2 separate regions of the Homo sapiens genome follow, and region 2 is linked to region 1. The links come from fine-mapping of genetic effects on gene expression. A gene starts in region 1. The other region holds a variant in brackets. All regions are shown on one strand. Distances are between the middles of the regions. Region 1 holds the start of TTLL5 (tubulin tyrosine ligase like 5). Region 2 overlaps TTLL5 (tubulin tyrosine ligase like 5).

What was found. PIP is the estimated chance that this variant, and not a neighbour inherited with it, causes the effect.
Region 2: its variant is the best candidate, but not a certain one, in a credible set for the expression of TTLL5 in testis (GTEx, PIP 0.68).

Annotation. Positions count from the first base shown.
Region 1 is chr14:75,659,072-75,663,468 of GRCh38, reverse strand. TTLL5 (tubulin tyrosine ligase like 5) reads right to left here and starts at 2,223. Exons shown (of 32, transcript NM_015072.5): 1 at 2,082-2,223; 2 at 246-414. The coding sequence starts at 319. It overlaps ERG28 (ergosterol biosynthesis 28 homolog), which reads left to right and starts at 2,593. Exons shown (of 5, transcript NM_007176.4): 1 at 2,593-2,694. RefSeq lists an enhancer at 2,152-2,371 and a silencer at 2,482-2,531.
Region 2 is chr14:75,720,197-75,724,593 of GRCh38, reverse strand. It overlaps TTLL5 (tubulin tyrosine ligase like 5), which reads right to left. Exons shown (of 32, transcript NM_015072.5): 12 at 3,891-3,998. Among named protein-coding and RNA genes, the nearest start is that of TTLL5, 61 kb to the right of the region's middle. The variant A/G (reference allele first, on the strand shown) is at 2,680.

The DNA.
Region 1 (4,397 bases):
TGTTCACTTATGGGCCCAGAAAGAGAGCCTTATCTCATTTCTCATAGCTGATAGGGACTGAGTAACAAGACCTTAAATGACATTATGGATAGAAGCTAAAACCAGAGTTAGATAATCCCCAAGGAATGACACTAGATAAAAGAGTACATAAGTAAAAGAGAAGAGTATATAGTAAAACAGTATATAAGAGTATATAAGTGAAAGAGTACAAAGCACAGGTTGAAAGCAGGCTTGCTATTACTTACTCTTGACTTATGACCTCCTCATCCTCTGAGGATGATGCTGTTTCCTCCAGGTCCCGGGCCATCACGATTGGCATTTCCTTTAGGGTTTGTCATGCAGTCAGCAGACGGGGGCCTCAGAGACCTTTCCTAGCAGATTCACTGGATCAAGCAATTTGGATGGCACAGATTCCTGCAAGAAATCAACTTGATTGGATCAATTGACCTGAAACACAATGCAGTTGTCTATTTATTGGTTATTGCTGATAATCTAAGTAATGAAAATGACTATATTCCTAAACAGTGCTCAACCTCTAGAAGTTTACTTTCCATAACATATGGAATGTGCCTCAATATGTGCCTCAATATGCCACAAAAATCAAGATTTTTTTCAAACATACAGTCTGTGCTCTATATATTTGAAGAGCTGTTACTAAGTTTGAGTTTCTCATTATTTACTAAATCGAATATGCACCAAAAGGATAGACTCCTCACTTTCACTCAGTTTGAGGCAGGTGACTGATTCCCTAAAACATATATTCCTTGCTAGACAAACCTGGCCTGGGTTAAAAATAAATAAATAAAAACTCAAGGTTTAAGACCCTTGCAGGCCGGGCAGGGTGGCTCACGCCTGTAATCCCAGTACTTTGGGAGGCCAAGGCGGGCGGATCACCTGAGGTCGGGAGTTCGAGACCAGCCTGACTAACATGGAGAAACCCCGTCTTTACTAAAAAAAAAAAAAAAAAATACAAAAAATTAGCCGGGTGTGCTGGCTCATGCCTGTAATCCCAGCTACTCGGGAGGCTGAGGGAGGAGAATCGCTTGAACCCGGGAGGCGGAGGTTGCGGTGAGCCAAGATCGCGCCATTGCACTCCAGCCTGGGCAACAAGAGTGAACTCCGTCTCAAAAAAAAAAAAACAACAAAAAACCCCTGCCAACATTTATTTAGACTCTATGACAAGCACGCTGACAAGATGCCATCATGTTTCCAGTAAAATAAATTCAACAATGAACCGAAAGATGAATATATTCTCTTGAATCAAAGGTCCATATAAATAGGTGGGGGAGGGGAGGAATGCCCTTCCACTCTTAAAAATTATTCTTCCTAAAAATCACAAAGTTTGGTACGACTCTCAAATAGACGATGAAATTAGGAAATTTCCAACACTGCATTTCTAACTTAAAATATTTTTTCTAAAGTAAAAAAGTACATGTTCGTTGTGTGTGTCAGAAGAAGAAATAGGAACTACAAATAAAAGAAACATGTTTAAATGACCATAATCCCAAATTACTCAGCGATAATTACTTGCTGTCAATCCTTCTTAACTTTTCCATGCATTCATAAATACGATGAGACTGTAAATAAGACAAAAAAAAAACAGACCCCGATAATGATCAAAGATCTTCGGCGCAATAGGCAATGTCTAACAACTTCAATGGCTTTCTTCAGGGGATTCTCAACGGGATTTCTTGATCTTTCCCAAAATGCTGGGAAGCCCTTTAAGTTTAAACAAACAAAACCTCCAAACGGGAAGGGATGCCAACCTCTCCTAGGCTGCCTGCAGAGCGGGGAGAAACAGGTCTATCGGAAGAAGAGTAGAGATACTCACCTAAGGAGACTCCTCTCCCGAAAGGAATCTGCTTCTCAGCCCCACCCCCAGCTCACCCCAATCCCACGTAGGTCCGCAGATGCTCCCCCCGGGAAGGACGGGACGACCCCGCAGCCGCGATTCAACGCGGCGCGCCCGGAAGCCAACAGCTACTCCCGGGCTCTGAGCGGGAAGTCCTGCTGCAGGCGCCAGCCCGGACCCGGGAATGCTCCTCCCTAGGGTAGGGAAGCGCGCGGGCGCAGGCGTTTACCTGTCTCATCTTCCCATGGTTCGGGGCGAGCAGGCGTGGACCGCGCTCTGCGCCTACCTCCCTCCTCCTTCCCCAGGAAGGCTCAGGGCAGCCGCCGACGGCTGCTTCCCCGGTTACTACAACAACCAACAAGCAACCGCCCGCTCGGAGCCACTGCGCAGGCGCTCATAACGCTCAGCTGCGGACGCGGGCGAATGTCGTCACCGCCGCGCAGCGCGGGCGCAGAGCCCTGCCCTCAGCTGAAGGGAGTCTTCTTTTTTTTTTTTTTTTCCGCTGTTTTTTTCTCCGCCCCTAAGAGGTTGACTCCAAACCCGGAGTTCCGCTAGGTCCAACAGGAGGGCTTACGGCGTGAGCGGCGTACCTGGGGAGAGGCTTAGGCAGCGGCAACCGCTGATTGGCAGTAAAGGGGTTCACTCCCCATCTCCTGCTCGGGCGAAACCGGGACAGCCAATCAGAGAGAGTACTGACGGAAACGGCCCAATCCTGGAGCAGGGCTGAGGGAGGGGGCGGGGACAAATGGCTCAGGTGGACTCCGGGCTGGAGCTGTCCTGGGGGAGCTTGTTTGCGGCAGCGGCTGCTGCTGCCACTGCTGTGCTGGGGGCCCGGTCGCCAGGTAAGGAGAATATGGGGGAGAAGAGGGATGTAGGTGTCTGTGTTGCTTCTGATTGAGAGGATCCGGAGAGTCTGGAAAAATGGAGGTGGGATGGAAGGAAGATAACTGGAAGGCAACCTTTTGGGGGGAAAAGGTTTCGAGAGGCGATGACAAGGGGGAGCTAGGAAGATGGAGAAGGCTTGGTGAATTCAAGGAACGAAGGAATGGATGAGCGAATGAGCAGCCACTATGAGCCTAGCACTGTACAAAGAGCCTTCACTTTTTGTCATATAATTCTTACAATAGCCCTTCGGGTTGATATTTCTATCTCCATTTTGCAGATGAGGAAACCGAGACTGAAAAGTGTAAATGACTTACCCAGGGTCACACAGCTACTAAGTGGTAGGGCCAGGATAAGAATCCCTTTCTCCTGATTAAGTTTTAACAGCACACCTATGCTGGGCTGGGCTTGGCTGGGCTGGGCCAGGGCCAGGACAAAATTTGGAAATAGATGTTGTATACACTCTAAGAGGCCCTTAAGCTTTAGGGAAATTAGGTTGAGAAATTGGCAGAGCAATTCAGAAGTGCTCAGGCTCTGTCCTCATCAGCTATCTGTTGGGATTTCTAACAGATAACACTTCTGTGAAATGGAAGGCATACTTGTGCAGAAAAGTGGAGAGGTGCATCCATGCAGCTTTTCTAAACCCCGGAGGAGTCTCCTCTTGAGAGAGAGTGAGAAAATAAAGAGGATGGGTGGATCTTGGCCCAAATGATAATGGCCTGTGATGTCCAGTAGACCCTCAGTCTCTCTGATCTTCGACAGAGACCACCTTTGTGATCCAGCTCTCCCTGAAGGGCTCATCAATTCACCCTTCCTTCTCTAGATCTCTTTATTGCTTGTTTGGGGCGGGGAGTTGGCGGGGGGGGGCGGCGGTGTTTCACACTGTCTTGGGCCATTGCTGACTTTAATATCTGTCCCACTGGGTAGCAGAGAACAATACCGAAACTTGTATTGCCAAAGTGACAAAGAAAGCCTGTTAGTTTATTACCACTTCAGGCCCAAGAGGTTAACCTGACAACAGATAAACCGTGGACCAAGAAAATAATAATGAGGATGGGAAAAAGTCATTCCATTATTAGATTATTTATCTATTTTGGTTTTATTTAAATCAGACTAACTGAAATTACTACTCAACAAGAGTTGAACTAAGCCTTAAAAAAAAAAAAAAAAAGGCTGGGTGCTGTAGCTCACACCTGTAATCCCAGCATTTGGGAGGCGAGGCCAAGGTGAGTGGATCAGTTGAGCCCAAGTGGAGAGGTTGAGGTAGGAGGATCACTTAAGCCTTTGATTTCAAGGCTGCAATGAGCCATGACTATGCCACTGCATTCCAGCCTGTGTGACAGAGCAAGACCCTGTCTCAAAAAAATAAATAAATAAATAATAAATTAAAAAACAAAAAGTATGTAATCTAATTGTATTTTCCATACAACTTGAAGACAAAAGTGGATATGGTATGCTTTTCTTTCTCAAAAAATGGGAACTTCATTAAAATAGTCTCAAACAATGAGGTAGCACTGCAGCAGTCCAGCAGACCATGATTCTTATCTCAGCTCTGCCAACTTTGCTGTGTGACCTTAAGAAACTTGTTTAACCTCTCTGTTCCAACCCTCATCTGTAAGATGGAAATATTAATAGTGCCTGCTTACCTCATTGTAAAGATTAA
Region 2 (4,397 bases), 61 kb before region 1:
AGTTCATTTCTCAGGGTTTCAATTTCTATATCTGAACTAATTATTCTCTAAGGTCCTTGCCAGATGTGCAAATCTAGGAAAAAGCATTAAATGACAAAGTTTCGGGTAGTTTGTATAGGTTCTCAAGTCTACATTTAAACACTAATAGTGCAATGGAGGTATATATATATCTATATCTGTATCTCATCCTACATAAAATTTGGTTTGAGAGGAACAAACTTGATGGTAATACACTGCCGAAAGGCTAACCTATGACTTGCCCACAGCAGGAACTGAAGAAAAATTAAATGTATAAATAAATAGGATGGGATATTGAAGATACCTGGAAACATAGTTGAACATTACAGGTGGTAGGATGGGAAAGAAATCATAGGATACAAACACTGAGATAGTAAGGGAATGCCCCTGGCAGAGATCCATAAGATGGAAGGACAGGAACAACCACCAAAAGAATATAGCGAACCCCATGTCTGGTCTGTTGGTTTCCCCTAAAAGCACCAATGCTCTGTTTGAGCCAAAATCTTCTGGGAAGCTTTCAATTCCTGTTTACTCTAAAATAAATGGAAAAAAAAAAAAACAACTAGCTTATTCCTTGTGACTTAAACCCCAGGGGAAGTTAGGAGTCAGTGGGAGGCAGAGACTCATACAAATATACACACGTATACAAAATCATATCTGATGGGATGAGGTTAATGAAGCACACAAAATCCCAGGGCTGACAGGAAGTGGAATTAGAACCACAAAAGCCAAGAAGATAGTCAACAACTTAAAAAACTCCAGATGCACTCAGTTTATTAAAACTGAACACAAGTAGGGAGGAAGAAAGGAGACCCATGGCTGATGAAATGGACTTAAGGGGTATTTCACTGAGTCAGAGAAAGTCACAGCTTCTTCCACGTCGGAACATTCTATTGCCAATAAGTTCAATAATGAAGCTCCCAAGCTTCCAAAAGGCAATCAAGTTATAAAACAAACAAACAAACAAACAAAAGGAAACATTCAGAAAAGGTTTTATAATTATTTAGAACAAAGATTTTTACAGCAAGGGATATCAGAAATTTACCCTCATATAAGAGCCAAGTAGATGTAGAAAAATAAACCTTTATTTATTATTTAAATCTAATGAGGTTTTGGAAGTTGGAGTTACGCTCCTAGTCCCAACCCCTCATCCCCATCTTCAAACAGTCTGCAATAATTCTAAGAGTTCTAGGCCATTACCAAACCAGATCCATTGGGAAGTCTACTGTCAGGCCACCAAAAAGCAATTAAAGCAAGTGCCAATCATTCATTCAAGAAACATTTCCTGAACATTCTCTAAGAGCAAAAGACGCTGACATGCAACTGGGTATGGTGGCACACACCTATAGTCCTAGCTACTCGGGAGGCTGAGGCAGGTGGATCCTTTGGGCCCAGGAGTTCAAGGCCAGACTGGGTAACGTAGTGAGATACTGTCTCAATTTAAAAAAAAGTGCTGCCATGCATGGTGGGGGCAAAACTGACGGAGATATTCTTACTGTCCTCAAGGAGTTTCCAGTCGGCTACAGGAGACAAATATACACATGACTACCAGACAACATACAGATACTATTGTAGAGTTACAAACAGAGTGCTGGGGGTATAAGGGCAGAGCAGGCTAACTCTGGGAGCATTAGAAAAAAACATCACCAAAGAAGTGACACTTGACTTTGTCTTGAAAAATGTCTGTAATTTATTAGGTAAAGTAACACAAGAAAGGTATTTCAGACACACGGTAAAACAGGTGCAGAGGTAGCAAGCGAGGGCTTACATGGTAGCTCATGCCTGTAAGCCCAGTATTTGGGGAAGCCAAGGCAGGAGGATCACTTGGTACCATGAGTTCAAGGCTGCAGTGAGCTAAATACGATTGCGCCATTGCACTCTAGCCTAGACAACAGTGAGACCCTGTCTCTAATACAAAACTAAAAAAAAAAATTTAAAAAGGGGACAAGAGAAATGTTGAAAGCTCTGGTTTGGCAGAAATAGGGTGAAATGGGAAGAAAGGACACACTGGCTGTTATGAATTCAAGAAAATAAACTCAGACACGGCTGAGTGTATGTATAAACAAAACATCATGATGTGATAGGAAAAGAGAATGATCAAACAAGCACAGAAAAGCATAATGCATAGTGAGGTCACATTTCTACAAAAAGTTTTTTAAACAATTAGCCAGGCATGATGACACATGCCTATAGTCCCAACTACTCGAGAGGCTAAGGTGGGAGGATCACTTGGGCCCAGGAGGTGGAGGCTGCAGTGAACGGTGATCATGCCACTGTACTCCACCCTGGGCAACAGAGCAAGACCTTGTCTCAAAAAAAAAAGAACAGCATGAGGGAGGAGGCAATGTGGAGAACTAAATCTTAGAAAAGAAATGGGAGCATGCAAGGCAGAGACAGAAGGAGAGTTTTTAGGCCAAACAGCAGAACTCATACAGTGGCACAAAAGCACAGAGTGCTTAGAAGTATACTATAGTACAGCTGGATTATAAGGTATATGAGGGGAAATGGAATTCTAGAAGAGTTACCTGAGTTACCTTAGAAGCCTTTCAGGTCATATCAAGTTTCTATTATACAATTTAAGCCTAAGGAACCATTTAAGGATTTCAGAAGACATGATCAGATATGTATTTTAAAAAATATATTACAACCTCTTCTTTTCCC[A/G]TATAATTTTAGGTCCTGATTTATCTACCATCTTCTATTCAATCTCAACAATTCCCTTTGTTTACTGACCCTCAAATATAGCCTGTTAACGATAATCTGTTAAAGAGATCAGGAATTATGATGTCTAATTACAAAAATAACAAATAATTTTTATTGAGTACAACGTAAGGGCCAGACATTGTGTCAAGTGCTTTGCGTGCATCATCTCATTTGATCTTCATGGTATTCTCAGGAGGTAGACACCACCATTACTGCCATTTTATAGTTGAGGAAACAGGATTAGAGTAACTTGCTGAAAATCACAAAACTAGATATGGATATACATGGTTACAAACTAAGGCTGTTAGGCTCTAAAACCCATATTCTTTATTTCCCTGTTACTCTGCCTTCTAACCAAAGCACGACTCTCATATCCTTACTACCTGTATTACTCCACACCACACTTTAATCATCCTCCCCATCAAAGACCCTAGTGTATTTTACTAACAAAGCCTAACACTGCCAAAAGCCTATGTGACTTTAAACACATTCACATGGGCAATCACAAACCCATTCATTTCCACATAGGAAGCAATGTCCATAGGCACCCTCAGTGCTACCATTATAGCTAGGGGGTCAGTAGGTAACATTTCCTGATTCTGTAGTTGTGAACTGCTTATTCCTTCTCTGTGCAGTCAAGGAGTTGGGGGTGGAGTGGAAGGGGAGGAGAAGAGGAAGAGAAAGAGAAAGAGAAAAGAAAGTGGAAGAGGAATGGGAGAAAGAGAGGAGGGGGAGGAACACACTAGAAAGAAGACTCAAACAAAAAGGAGGAGTCATCGGAAAATGGGAGAAAGCACATACTGGTACCAGCCAGAGCTTCTTGGAACTGTTCCCAGCCTGGCTGCCAAGGAGCTCTGGAATATATTTGTTAGAGCTGGATTCCTGTACAGTCCGTTGCAGACTTTTTCTGACTGCACTCTGACAGAAAGACCAACACGTTCGTTCCAATCCCTGCTTCCCACACAGAAAGCTAGTTACTCCTCAGGGGACTTCTGACCAAGCTCACTATTGGCCTCTTAGTAGGCTCTTCATATGCTACATGAGCTTAGAAAGAAGAGTCCATCACATACCTCTTACTGCTATAGAATCACTAAGCCTCTCTACCCTAAAATCCCGTCCAACTTCCCAAGATCCTCTTCACAAAACATGTTAAGCTTCTTGAGTCTCCTTACCAAAACAACTGCTGCGATGAGGAACAAAGGTTTTACAGGCAGTAGCAATAGCTAGTTCAGCAGAGATTATAGTCTTAATGATCAGGTCTTCTACATGGGCCATCAATGCTGCAAACAAAAATTTTTAAATTTCAGACTCAATATCAAAATACATGGATTATGAACTGGATTCCAGATAACAATATAACTATAAAAGCATGTGTGCTCATTCAAAAAAGCCTCTATATGGCAGACTTCTGAATGGGTGCTATAGAGGCAGGCATATCTGTGAACAGATCAATACAGTCAAGAATGTAGGTGCCAAGGGATACCCTCAGGTGGCCTCTTATGACAAAAGACAGACACATAATGGAATAGGAGCCTCACTTCCCTTCTCACACTTCCCCTATGACCCTTTCCCTTGTGAAATGAAAAGTCTTTTTTGGCACACAGTTTCCCGTTCTGCTCAAGGCTCAGCAATTGTGTCCATTTTGATTTGAAGCCCTGTGCTCAAACAGTGCCCATTCT